Linked DNA regions of Homo sapiens. The protein of the gene in region 2 purifies or fractionates together with the protein of the main gene of each other region. This does not show direct contact. Each region holds a gene or a part of one and is shown on either strand. Other genes may lie near its edges.

Region 1 (3,743 bases), on a different chromosome or scaffold from region 2:
CAGCTAGGTGTGACGGATGCACCTATAGTCCCAGCTACTGCCGAGGCTGAGACGGGAGGATGGCTTGAGCCAGGGAGTGGAGGCTGCAGTGAGCTGAGATCATGCCACTGCACTCCAGCCTGGGACTGACAGAGACTCCATCTCAGGAAAAAAAAAAAAAAATTTAAAGTGTTTTAAAGTTGTAGGAGAAAATTTTTAGGTGCAAGATTCTTTATGTAAGACTAAGAGTCCTCTTAAAATTAGTCAAACTAATAATCTACAACAGAGCTGTTAATTTGGCAACAAATTTTTAATTTGTATCAATCTAATGTCTGTCTTTCACATACTTCCAAACATTACATAAATTATTTTACCTAGTGCATACAACTTTCAAAAACTGTATTTGGCAATTAACAGACCCCTGACAATTATTAACAGGGGTTTTACATCCCGGAGTTTGAGTGTCTGCGGGAGAACCGTCCCTGCAGGAGGCACTCCCCCTCCACCTGCGACCCGGGCTGGGAGAACGCGCGGAGGGCTCCCTTGAGCGGTCTCCGCCAGCGAGGCTTTCCTCCCGGTCGGTGTTGACAGTGTGGCATTTCTGTTATCTAATTTCTGGTTTTGACTGAAAGCGAAGTGAGTTTTCTCATCAGTGGAGTTGTAATATTTCTGCAAAAAAAAAAAAGATCACAGCCCTCCGATGAGCCGGGCACTATGCGAAGTCTCCGGCTGCCTGCGGGCCGCTGTGGACGCCCCGGCGGGGGTCAGGACCGACCCCCATCTGCGCGGCGAACGAGCCCGGACGCCCTGGCCGCGGCCGCCGGGTCCCCGCCCAGGGGCCAGGTGGCCAGGTTGCGTCGGGAGGAGGAAATGGAAGCGCTCTGAGCGACTAGCGAGCGGCAGGAGCCGCCTCCCGCGGGCTTTCCTCGCGGGCCGGGAGCGTCTGCCGCCGACCCGAGGACCGCAGGGCCCCGCTCGCCGCCCGCGCCCGTCAGAAAGCCGCGCGTCGCTCCCGTCGCTGTCGGGGTCGTCGGCTCGGGGAGTCGCCCGCCGTCCACCGGTGAACGGGAGCGCGTCCTCCCCTCCGAGGGACTAAGCGCTCGCGCCACGCATCCCGCCGCGCCGGAAGCGGGGACTACTGGCGGCCCAGCTGGGCAGGACCGCGGCCGAATGACCCGGGGCGACCCCGCAGCAAGGGCGCCTCCGGCAGGCGGCAAAGTCCCCTGAGAATCGGCGCGCTCCTCGCCGCGACGGACTCCACCCGGCCGGGGCGCTCAGCCTCCTCGCCGTGGCCCCCAGCCCGGCCGCCTCCCCTAACGGCCGCCGCAGGCTCCCCTCATGGACCGAGAGCGCGGGCTTGCAGCGCGGCAGCGTCCGTTCGGCGCGCGGCTCCGGGCAGGCCCGCCCTCCCCCGTCCCCCTGCGCCGCGAGGCCCCCCCCCCGCCCCGCCCTCCGGCGCCCGGCGCCCAATCAGAGTGCCGCGCACGTGACGAGCGATGCCTGCGATGACCTCATCCCTGGTGTGGGATGACGTCAAATTCAAGATGGATGGAATCACAGCGGCAGCGGCGGCTGCGGCGCGCGCGAGCCGAGTGTGAGCGGAAAGGGGCCCGGCGTCTGCCTCGAGACTGAAGACCGGTGAGTAACTGTCACGCCCCTAGCTCTAGGAGAACTGCGGGGCTCCTTGGGAGGCTACAGCCTCCCCGCAAAACGCGGCCTTTCCTGACGTAACTCTGAGGTGATTTCTCTCCTCTTTTTTCTCCACCAGCGGGTTGCGGGCTCCGAGCGCTTCTGCGCGTGCGCGGGACCTGGGCGCTCACCGAGCATGTCCCGGGTTCCCACGTAGCCGATTGTACCTTCACACTGCGCACGCTCCCTGCCAGCACTTGGCCTCGCCCTCGCGAATGCGCATGCTCCATTCCCTCACGGGCTTCACTCTTCACCCTGGCCGAGCTGCCCCTGGGGTAGGGGACACGCCTGGCCCAGGCGCGCGCCCCTCGCGCGGAGCGGTTGAAACGCCTCGTGGAGAAGGGCGCGTTCTCCTGTTCCGGGCAGGGGTTGGGGGCCGGCGGCCCGGGCCGCGGGGTGTGCGCGGAAGCTGGCCGGCGGCCTTGGGGACCCCGCACCTGCCGCGACCCGCCGCTCCCTTCACGGTCCGGGACCTAGCCCCGCCGCCCCGTCCTCGGCCCGGTGGCCGGAGCGTGACCGCTCGGTGCCCGCTGGACGCTCCCTCCCCGCCCCCGGCCCCTCCCGCGGACGCCTGGACCTCACAGCGCGTTTTTTTTCCTCCAGAGCCCCCGCAGACCTTGTCTGGGACTTCCCGGCGGTCCCGCAGAGCATAGCACCCTCCGCCGGCCAGGAGCCCTGCTGCTCGGCCGGCGACCGTCTCCCCGCTTGGAGGAGCCCCCTTCCCCCCGTCCGAGGTCCGCGGCTGGAGGGGCAGGGAGTCAAGACGCCACCCGTGCCGGCCTTAGAGACGCCCGCGGCAGCCCCGCCACATCTCTTCCCGGCTTTTCGGGAACACGCCCCGTAGTCCATCCTCAGCGGCTCCTGCTTTTCCATCCCAGCACACCGCTGGGGGCTCGCACTCTGCCCCCGGTTGCTATGCGGTCCCAGCCACGAGGGCTCTGCGGTTCGGGAGAATTCCGCAAGAGCGCGCGTTCGGAGGCGGGGTGTTTTTAGACAGGTGCCCCGGTGGGATTGCCTGACCGAGAGGACGGGGAAAGTTAGACTTCACACGGCCTGGGGTTTTTCCTTTCGTGCAAGCGCTCACAGCCCTGGCACCGAGCCTCCGAGGGCACGCGTGTGTTACAAAATAGTCCAGCGATTGTTCACACGATGACCCTGAGTCCTCAATTAAGCAGCTTACATTACGGTCCTCATACCTTGTTTAAGAAGACAAGAAAGTGGGTTAATCCATTTTAGAAAGATTTCTCATGGAAAATTATCTTTTAAAGCTTTCCTCGTGTACTTGGAGTAAATGATGATCTCTAAGGACTAGTAGTCATTAAGTTTAAATTTAAGCACCCCTAAATATTGATGTTAAAAAGAAAGTCAAAATTTGAAGTGCTGGTTTACTTAAAAGTAACTTTTTGTTTATTTTTCCTTTTTAACACTTTATTGAAAGTATAATGTGCTTCATTCTGTTGAAATAGAAGTTGAAGAAGATATAACCCCTGCCCTCGAGGAACTTACACTGTTGAATATTAGATGTGTACACTCTGAAGGAAAAATTGTAAATAACAAAATTGGGGTTAAGTTAAGAAGGTCTCTCGATGGAAATGAGATAATTAAAGGGACAATTTTTTCTTTTCTTTTCTTTTTTTCTTTTTTTTTTTTTTTTTTTTTTGACAGAGTTTCACTCTTGTTGCCCCAGGCTGGAGTACAATGGCGTGATCTTGGCTCACTGCAACCTCCGCCTCCCTGGTTTTGCAACCTCCGCCTCCCTGGTTCAAGCGATTCTCCTGCCTCAGCCTCCTGAGTAGCCGGGATTACAGGCTTCCGCCACATCGCCCAGCTAATTTTTTTTTTTTTTTTTTTTTTTTTTGTAGAGACGGGGTTTCATCCTGTTGACCAGGATGGCCTTGAGATCTCCTGACCTCGTGATCCACCCCACTTGGTCTCCCAAAGTGCTGGGATTACAGGCATGAGCCACTGCGCCCAGCCGAAGGGACAGTTTTAGTTGTCCGCAAAGCCAATGGAAGTAGAGAGAGCAGATTATAAGCTATGTAAGAGCTAGGTTTGACCAGGTCACAGTGATAGGC
Region 2 (3,743 bases):
CCATATCCACAGCAAACAGAAGTTGCTCAATAAATGTTAGTCCAAAGGAAAAAGAGCATTTCTCCCATTTAATCATTCAGTGAGAGTCCACCACATATGTTACACTGTGCATTTATTTACAAAGAGGTTAGAGAAACACACAGAATCTGGCCCCCCTTTGCACTGGGGAGTCACCATCGTCATAATAAATACAGTAATTTTAAAAAAGAAAAAAAATACTAGATTGGAACAGCTGAGGGTCATCAGGCTTCCCCCATTCCCTCTCACAGGGAGTGGGGGTCATGAGATAGAAACCATCTTCCTTCCCCTCTTCTACCTCCGAATCCTCCATAATTGTCCAGGGATCGAAGTGAAAGAGTCCTTCTTTCCAGGTGTTACCAACCCCTACTTGACCCTCAAAACCCCCAAATCAGTGCTCCTTCCCTTCCCAGGGCACTCTGCAGGGACCACCTGAGTCAGACACAGAGTCTCTGACCAGGGTGCCAAGGGGATATCTTAAGGGTCCAGGGACATGGAGGGGGCACTTTGTGAATGAGAGGGGGCCATAGCTGGGCAAGGAAAGGAGGAATGAGAGGGCTCATCAGGAATGAGAGGGAGAGCGGTGGAGGGGAACAAACAGACTAGGCTTCTAAACTAAAACGGGGAAATTCAAACCGAATTACCCCTTTTGCATACATGGACACTTACTGTACAGATGAGGAAAGTGACGCCCAGAGAAGGGGAACTGTCTTGCCCAAGGGCTTCCAAGCTAGAAGCTGAACTGGGTCAAACAGGGCTCCTCCCCATTCCTCTCGGTGGTGGTGGGGGAGCCTTTTCAACCAAGACTGTTAGGAGTGGGGAGAGTGAGGGGGGTCTTTGGAAGCAGAGAAAACGATGGTCTTTGGAAGGTAGATGTGGAAGGGTCAGTGGTTGGGAGTGTGGAGGTGCAGAGGCCATGAAGGGGGAGCCCAAGCAAATCCCCAAACTCACACTGTAGTCATGACCTTGAGAGAACCCGAACGGAAACGCAGTATCTTTTTCTTGAGCGCGTGGGAAGCTTTGATTTTCACGAAGACTTTGGCGGGGCCTGCGGGCGCCCCTGCACCTGCTCCACCCCCAGAGGCCGCGGTGGCCGCCACCAGCTGCTGCGGCCACACGAGGCCACCGCTGCCGTCTGAGTCGCTGGAGGCAGAGCTGAAGGCAGGCGATTCTCCCTCGCTGGCGCTCGATTCGCTCTCCCCGTAACCCCCGCCGACGCCTCCCGCAGGCCCCCGGCGTCCCAGGGGCCCCAGGCGCCCAGCCGAGCACTCGGAGTCGCTGCCCGCGCAGCCGTAAAGCAGACGACGCTGGGGAGCTGACGGGGACGGGCCGGGGCCGGGAACACGCGCCGCAGGGGCTCGGGGCCGCACGCGGCGCCCATCGGCAGCGTCGATCTCCGCAGTGGAGCGCCAGCGACGGCAGGACCCTGCGGCCTGGGCCGCCAGCGTGGGCGCTGGGCCGCGGCGTGGCCGTGGAGGCCGAGGCTCTTCCCGCTCCGCCGTGGGGTACTTAGGGGGCCCCGAAGGGACCGCGGAGGCGCGGCCCAGCAGGCTGGTCTCAGACTGGGAGCGCGAGGCCTTGCGGGCCCTGGGCGAGCCGCGGCGGCCCGAAGCCTCGGCCATGCGTCCACGGCGGCCGGCGGCCCGGGGACGCTCCCGGGGTGGTGACTGCTCCACGCTGCGGCCGCGGGTCAGTGGCGGCGGTTTGCGGCGGGCGGCGCGGCCAGGGAGGCCTCGGGTGGCCGCCTGCGCGCCCGGGATGTACTGCGCCTTCACCAAGCGGCCCTCAGCCGGGCTGTCGGGGGGTGAGGGGGCGGCGGGCGGCGCAGCGGGCTCGGGTGCCGCCTCCGACTCCCACGACGACGCCCAGGCGCGGCTCAAGGCGGCAGGGCTGGTGGGGTGGCCCCCGACGCGCTCCAACGAGGGCTCCCGCGCGGGTCGCGCGCTGCCGGGGGACGGAGACGCGTCGGGCGGCCGCTGGCGCACGCTGTTCTGGCGCCGCGGGCCGCCGTCCGCGCCCCCGGGACTGGTCCGGGGCTGGCCCGCCCCCCGGCGGCGGCGCCTGCGCAGGAGCGCCGAGATGTAGCCGTCCAGGGGCCGCCCTGCGCCCCCCGCGTCGGGCGAGTCGGTGGGAGGGCGGCCGCAGGGCCGCGGGCTGCGCATCGCCACGGCGTGCAGGGGGCTGGGCGTCAGAAAGGGCCCGGCGCGGGCCCGCCGCTCCGCCGAGGAGCAGGCCTCCGGGCCGGCGGACCCCCCTGCCGTCGGGTAGGGCGCTGAGAAGGACCGCGGCACCGCTGCCCGCGCGCCCACCACCTCCGGAGCGCTGGGACTGGCGTCTCCTAGGGAAGGAAGGCCAAAAAAAAAAAAAAAAGAGAGAGTGGAGGGGCTCTCAAAGTCCTTTCCCATTTCTCATCCAGCCCGGAAGGGGCGGGTTGCCTCCCTCCCTTCCATCCTCATCGCAGCAAAAACCCTGCTCTCACACCTTCCTTCTTGTAAAATTCATAATAAAATCTTTACAGGGTCCTACAAGACCCTGCGTGACTTGTCCTGCCTCTGCCTCTGCCTCTCCAACTCTCACAACATCTTACCCCCTATTTTTTTTTTTTTTTTTTTTTTGAGACGGAGTCTCGTTCTGTCGCCCAGGCTGGAGTGCAGTAGCCCGATCTCGGCTCACTGCAAGCTCCGCCTCCCGGGTTCATGCCATTCTCCTCCTGAGTGGCTGGGACTACAGGCGCCCGCCACCACGCCCGGCTAATTTTTTTGTATTTTTAGTAGAGACGGGGTTTCACCGTGTTCGCCAGGATGGTCTCGATCTCCTGACCTCGTGATCCTCCCGCCTCGGCCTCCCAAAGTGCTGGGATTACAGGTGTGAGCCACTGCGCCTGGCCTTTTTTTTTTAAGACAGGTTCTTGCTTGCTCTGTCACCCAGGCTGGAGTGCAGTGGCGCAATCATAGCTCACTGCAGTTTCCAGCTCCTGGGCTCAAGGGATCCTCTCGCCTTATCTTCCTGAACGGCTGGGACTACAGGAACGCATCACCATGCCCTGCTGATTTTTTTATTTTTTGTAGGGATGGGGTCTCACTGTGTTGCCCAGTCTAGTCTCCAGCTCCCAGGCTCAAATAATCCTCCCGCCTCAGCCTCCTAAAGTGCTGGGATTACAGGCATGAACCACTGAGCTGACCCTTCTCCTCTACTTATAGGACTCCAGCCACACTGGCCTCCTGAAAGCAGGCGCCAGTCACATTCTGGCCTCAGAGCCTTTCTGCTTCCCATTCCAGATTCCAGATGCCCGGAATGCTCTTCCTTCTGGATATCTGCTAGGTCCACTCCCCCACTTAGTTCAGGGCACAACTCAAATGTTACAGTCTCAGTGAAGCCCTCCCCAGCCATATTTTCTAAAATTGCACTTCCCTCCCCAAACTCAAAGGGACACTTCTGAGTCCCTTTCCCCGGCTTATTTCTTGTCATAGCACATGGCATTATTTCGTACCCTAGATATTTTACTTATTTATCCTGGTTTATTTATTTATCTATTTATTTATTTATTTATTTATTTATTTATTTTTTAGACGAAGTCTCGCTCTGTCACCCAGGCTGGAGTGCAGTGGCATGATCTCAGCTCACTGCAATCTCTGCCACCCAGGTTCAAGCGATTCTCCTGCCTCAGCCTCCTGAGTAGCTGGGATTACAGGCACGCGCCACCACGCCCAGCTAATTTTTGTATT
Region 3 (3,643 bases), on a different chromosome or scaffold from region 2:
CCTGGGGAGTGCCTTGTGGAAGCATAGGTGCAGGCCAGCCACTAAGGCACAACCGGCCCGCCTCGTGCGGGAACAGACCCTTCTCCATCTGGACCCAGGCCTGGGCTGGGTGGCGGGAGAATGGTTCTTTTGCTGAATCTATGAAATGGAAACTGGCAAAACTGCCAAATGAGGGCGAGTCAGAGGCCAGCGAGATGTGTCCGGATGGGGTGAGGAAGAGCCTCCTGGAACGGCAAAGGGGAGATGCTCTAAGGTGAAGGATGAGAAAGCAGAGCCCAGGGAGTGCAGAGGGCAGGGGAGACCGGAACAAAAGCGGGAACAGCCATGGCGATGGGGGGATGGGTACAGGATCTTTGTAGCCAAAATCATCAGGAATTTTCCATGTCGTCTCCAGGGACTAGCCCTGCCCCCAGCCTCACCCCTGCAGGCCCAGCCGCTCCCGCAGCTTCAGCCAAGCCGCTGCCTCCCGGCCCCTCCCTCTCCTGCCCGGACCCTGTCCCCTCCCAGGCCGGCCACGTTCCTGCTTCCCCAGACCCCCGGCACCACCCTGGAGCCCGGAGTGCCCGGTACCCACCTGAGGGCAGGTCGAGCTCCACGCCGACCCACGTGCCCTCTTGGAAGTCGGCAGGCCCCACGTATCTCACCACGCCCGTTTTGTGGGCGCCCACGGTGACGAACTCGCCCTCTCGGAGCCACTCCGGGACCTCGTCAGCTTCCTCGGAATCAGAGGCCAGGGCCTGTCCCCCGGCGCCCGGGGCCGGCGCATTCCCCTCGGCCCCCGGGGAGCAGCCGGGGTCCCCAGCCAGCATGCGCGAGAAGGAGCGCAACTCCGAGGCCCGCACCCTCCGGACGCGGAACGGGGAGCCGGGCGCCGGGGCCTCGAGGTCGGGGCGCTCCCGACCGGGGCTCACGAGCTGCTGGGGGCCAGGGGGCTCCTCGGCGGGGACGGCCGTGGGCGGTGGGGGGTGGCTGATGGGCGCCTCGGGCTCGGCCTCAGGGGCGGTGGGCATGGACCCCGGCGGGGCCGCAGCGTCCAGGCCGGGGCCCAGGGCGTCCGACAGGGTCGCGGTGGAGACGCTGTGGGAGAAGTACCCGCTAGAGGCTTCACTCAGGGGGCTGGGGGGCCCGTCCTGTGCCTCCGGAGCCGGGGTGACCGCTGTGACAGCTATGACAGGCGGTGGGGAAGGCACTTTGGCAGGTTTGTCGCAGATCTTCAAGGCCGGGGCCCCCATCGTCTGCACCAGCACGTCAGGGCCCATCTCCGGCTGAGCCTGCAGCAGGACGGGGAAGCAGGGGCTGAGAACAGAAAACTTTCCAACACGAACCAAGCAGGCAGCTTTGACTTGGAAAAGAGCATGAGGCCAGGGGCAGTGGCTCAGCCTGTAACCCCAGTGCTTATGGAGGGCAAGACGGAAGATCGCTTGAGCCCAGGAGTTCAAGAACAGCCTGGGCAACATAGTGAGACCCCGTTTCGACAAAATAAATAAATAAAGAACATGGCTGGGACCCGGCCAGGCCCTGGTTCCCACACTGGTTCTGCCACTTAGGGCTGCATGGCCCTGGCTTCCAAAGTGATAAAGGTTGAGGGGCCGACAGTGCACCCCGCAGGCCCTGTGCTGTGTGCCCAGGCTCAAGAGCACTGACCATGGCCACAGCCCCTGCCCCATCTACTTTTTACCTTTCATACAAAATAGAATCCAGGGCCTGCCATGCAGGGCCAGCACGCTACAAAGACCAAGGCCCCTCGCCACAGAGGGCAGCACACAGTAGGTGCACGCTAAAACCCTGCTAGGGCTAGTTAGCTTTCCTCCCATGGAGACAAAGCCCCTGCCCACCCCCAACCTCACGAAGAGACTGAGTCACTAAAGAGACCAGAAGAGCACTTTTTTGTCCGGCAAAACCTAAACAATGATCTCATCGGAGGACCGGAACACACTCAGCACAGCCTGGCCAGCTCAGGCACCAACAAGGAGCCACGGGCCTGCAGCCTGGCTGGGCATCCCGAGCAAGGCAGCAGGGGGACGAGGAGGGGTACGAGGAGGGGTATGAGGAGGGGGACGAGGAGGGGGACGAGGAGGGGGACGAGGAGGGGGACGAGGAGGGGGACGAGGAGGGGGATGAGGAGGGGACAAAGGCTCCCTGTGGGCCGTGGCCCTTTCTCTCCAAGGCTGCTGCTCTGGCTGCTATGGAAAGCAGGTGCCATGTCAGGGGCTGGGGGGGCCTCGGACCCTGGAGAGAGGCCAGGAAGCAGCCCCCAGGGAGAAGCCACCAAGTGAGGCCAGCAGCTCTCCTCATGTCGGTCACTCTGTCTGAGTCACCCAGGCAGAGGACACACACACACTCAAAGCCCACATCTCATGGGGGAGAGCAGCCACCGCTTGCCCAAATCCTATTGTTTCTGGGGCATTCTTTCATCTATAACTGAAGCCATGTGAAGAGGCTGCCAGATCATCTTTCTATTCCTATTCACAGTGACCGAAGAAAAGGAGAAGGCAGGAACAGGGAATGAGATTGGTGGGGTGGAGAGCACTGCTATCCAGAAGAAATATGTTTTCCGATATTTATGGAAAAATTATTTATATTACAGGAATGGTCATTTTCCATTTGAAATACGGGATTTATTTGAATGGGGAAGCGGCTGAGATCTATACGTCTCTTACAGTTACTTGGCTTACCTCAGCAGCTTGATAAATCATGCGTTTTCCCAGGAACTGTCCTTTATATTCCCGTTTCCAGGGGCCCTCTTTTCCCCACCAACCACACTTTCAGGGTAGGAAATTAATGGCACCTCTTGAGATTAACAGCCCATTTTTGTGGTGAATCTCTAGGCTGCAAAATTTACTCAATCCAATAGATCAATAACTGTCACCAGCATAAATACTCTAAAAGATTAGGCAATCCTTCAATCATTCTTCCTTTGCACATTGTCCATGTTTTATTTATTCTCTTCTATTTTAGTTTTAATATCACTGACCCAACAGGGGAGAATACGCAAAACTATGAGAGCCGGGAATCTGAACGGTAACCAGGGTCCTGAAATGGCTTCTGTTCCCCGCCCCCACCCCGGGTAAGGCCAGCCACTGTCACTTCCCCAGGCCAGGCTCTCCCAGGATGAGGCCAGCTGCATGCCTCAGATTTGCAAGTATCATCATCCCATTGGCTTCCATGTAAGACACTGGCTTGGGCTGGGCTGGAAGGATCATGGCATTATTCTACAGCAGGCCTCCAGAGGGGAAAGCCCTCATCCAAGGCTGCACTAAGTGAAAAGGCAGGCACTGGGGGCAGAGCTGCAGAGTCAACAAAGCAGGGAGCAGGATGGTGGAAAGCACAGACTGGCACTCCAGGCCCCATCCCCACTTGACTGGAGTTGATTTGTGAGTTGAAACCCAGATGCCATCTATGGATTATACCCTTGCCACTGAAGAAGACATTTCTGGAGACTTCTGCAAAAGCCCAAGCTTGGAAAACCACCATGATGAGCTACAGAAGCTGCTGCCTTCACTGGCAAGGGGCTTGCTCTGACCATCCTGCTGACCAGGGACACTCAAACCTGCCTCAGAGAAGAGACCGGCACCATTCCCAGGGGAGGGGGCACCCCGATCCCGGCCACAGCAAATTCGTGAATGCCCAGTGTGCACTGGGG

What was found.
Region 1: the proteins of DACT3 (region 2) and ZBTB21 purify together in Homo sapiens (affinity purification with mass spectrometry, with the first as the bait; one large-scale study listed by BioGRID). This does not show direct contact.
Region 3: the proteins of DACT3 (region 2) and KIF13B purify together in Homo sapiens (affinity purification with mass spectrometry, with the first as the bait; one large-scale study listed by BioGRID). This does not show direct contact.

What each region holds. Positions count from the first base shown.
Region 1 is NC_000021.9:42,008,126-42,011,868, reverse strand, and holds the start of ZBTB21 (zinc finger and BTB domain-containing protein 21), read left to right. Parts: upstream 1-1,508; 5' UTR 1,509-1,617; intron 1,618-2,271; exon of another isoform or gene 2,272-3,743. UniProt on the Homo sapiens protein: Acts as a transcription repressor.
Region 2 is NC_000019.10:46,647,517-46,651,259, forward strand, and holds the end of DACT3 (dapper homolog 3), read right to left. Parts: intron 2,357-3,743; coding exon 966-2,356; 3' UTR 35-965; downstream 1-34. UniProt on the Homo sapiens protein: May be involved in regulation of intracellular signaling pathways during development. Specifically thought to play a role in canonical and/or non-canonical Wnt signaling pathways through interaction with DSH (Dishevelled) family proteins.
Region 3 is NC_000008.11:29,071,046-29,074,688, forward strand, and holds part of KIF13B (kinesin-like protein KIF13B), read right to left. Parts: intron 1,272-3,643; coding exon 575-1,271; intron 1-574. UniProt on the Homo sapiens protein: Involved in reorganization of the cortical cytoskeleton. Regulates axon formation by promoting the formation of extra axons. May be functionally important for the intracellular trafficking of MAGUKs and associated protein complexes.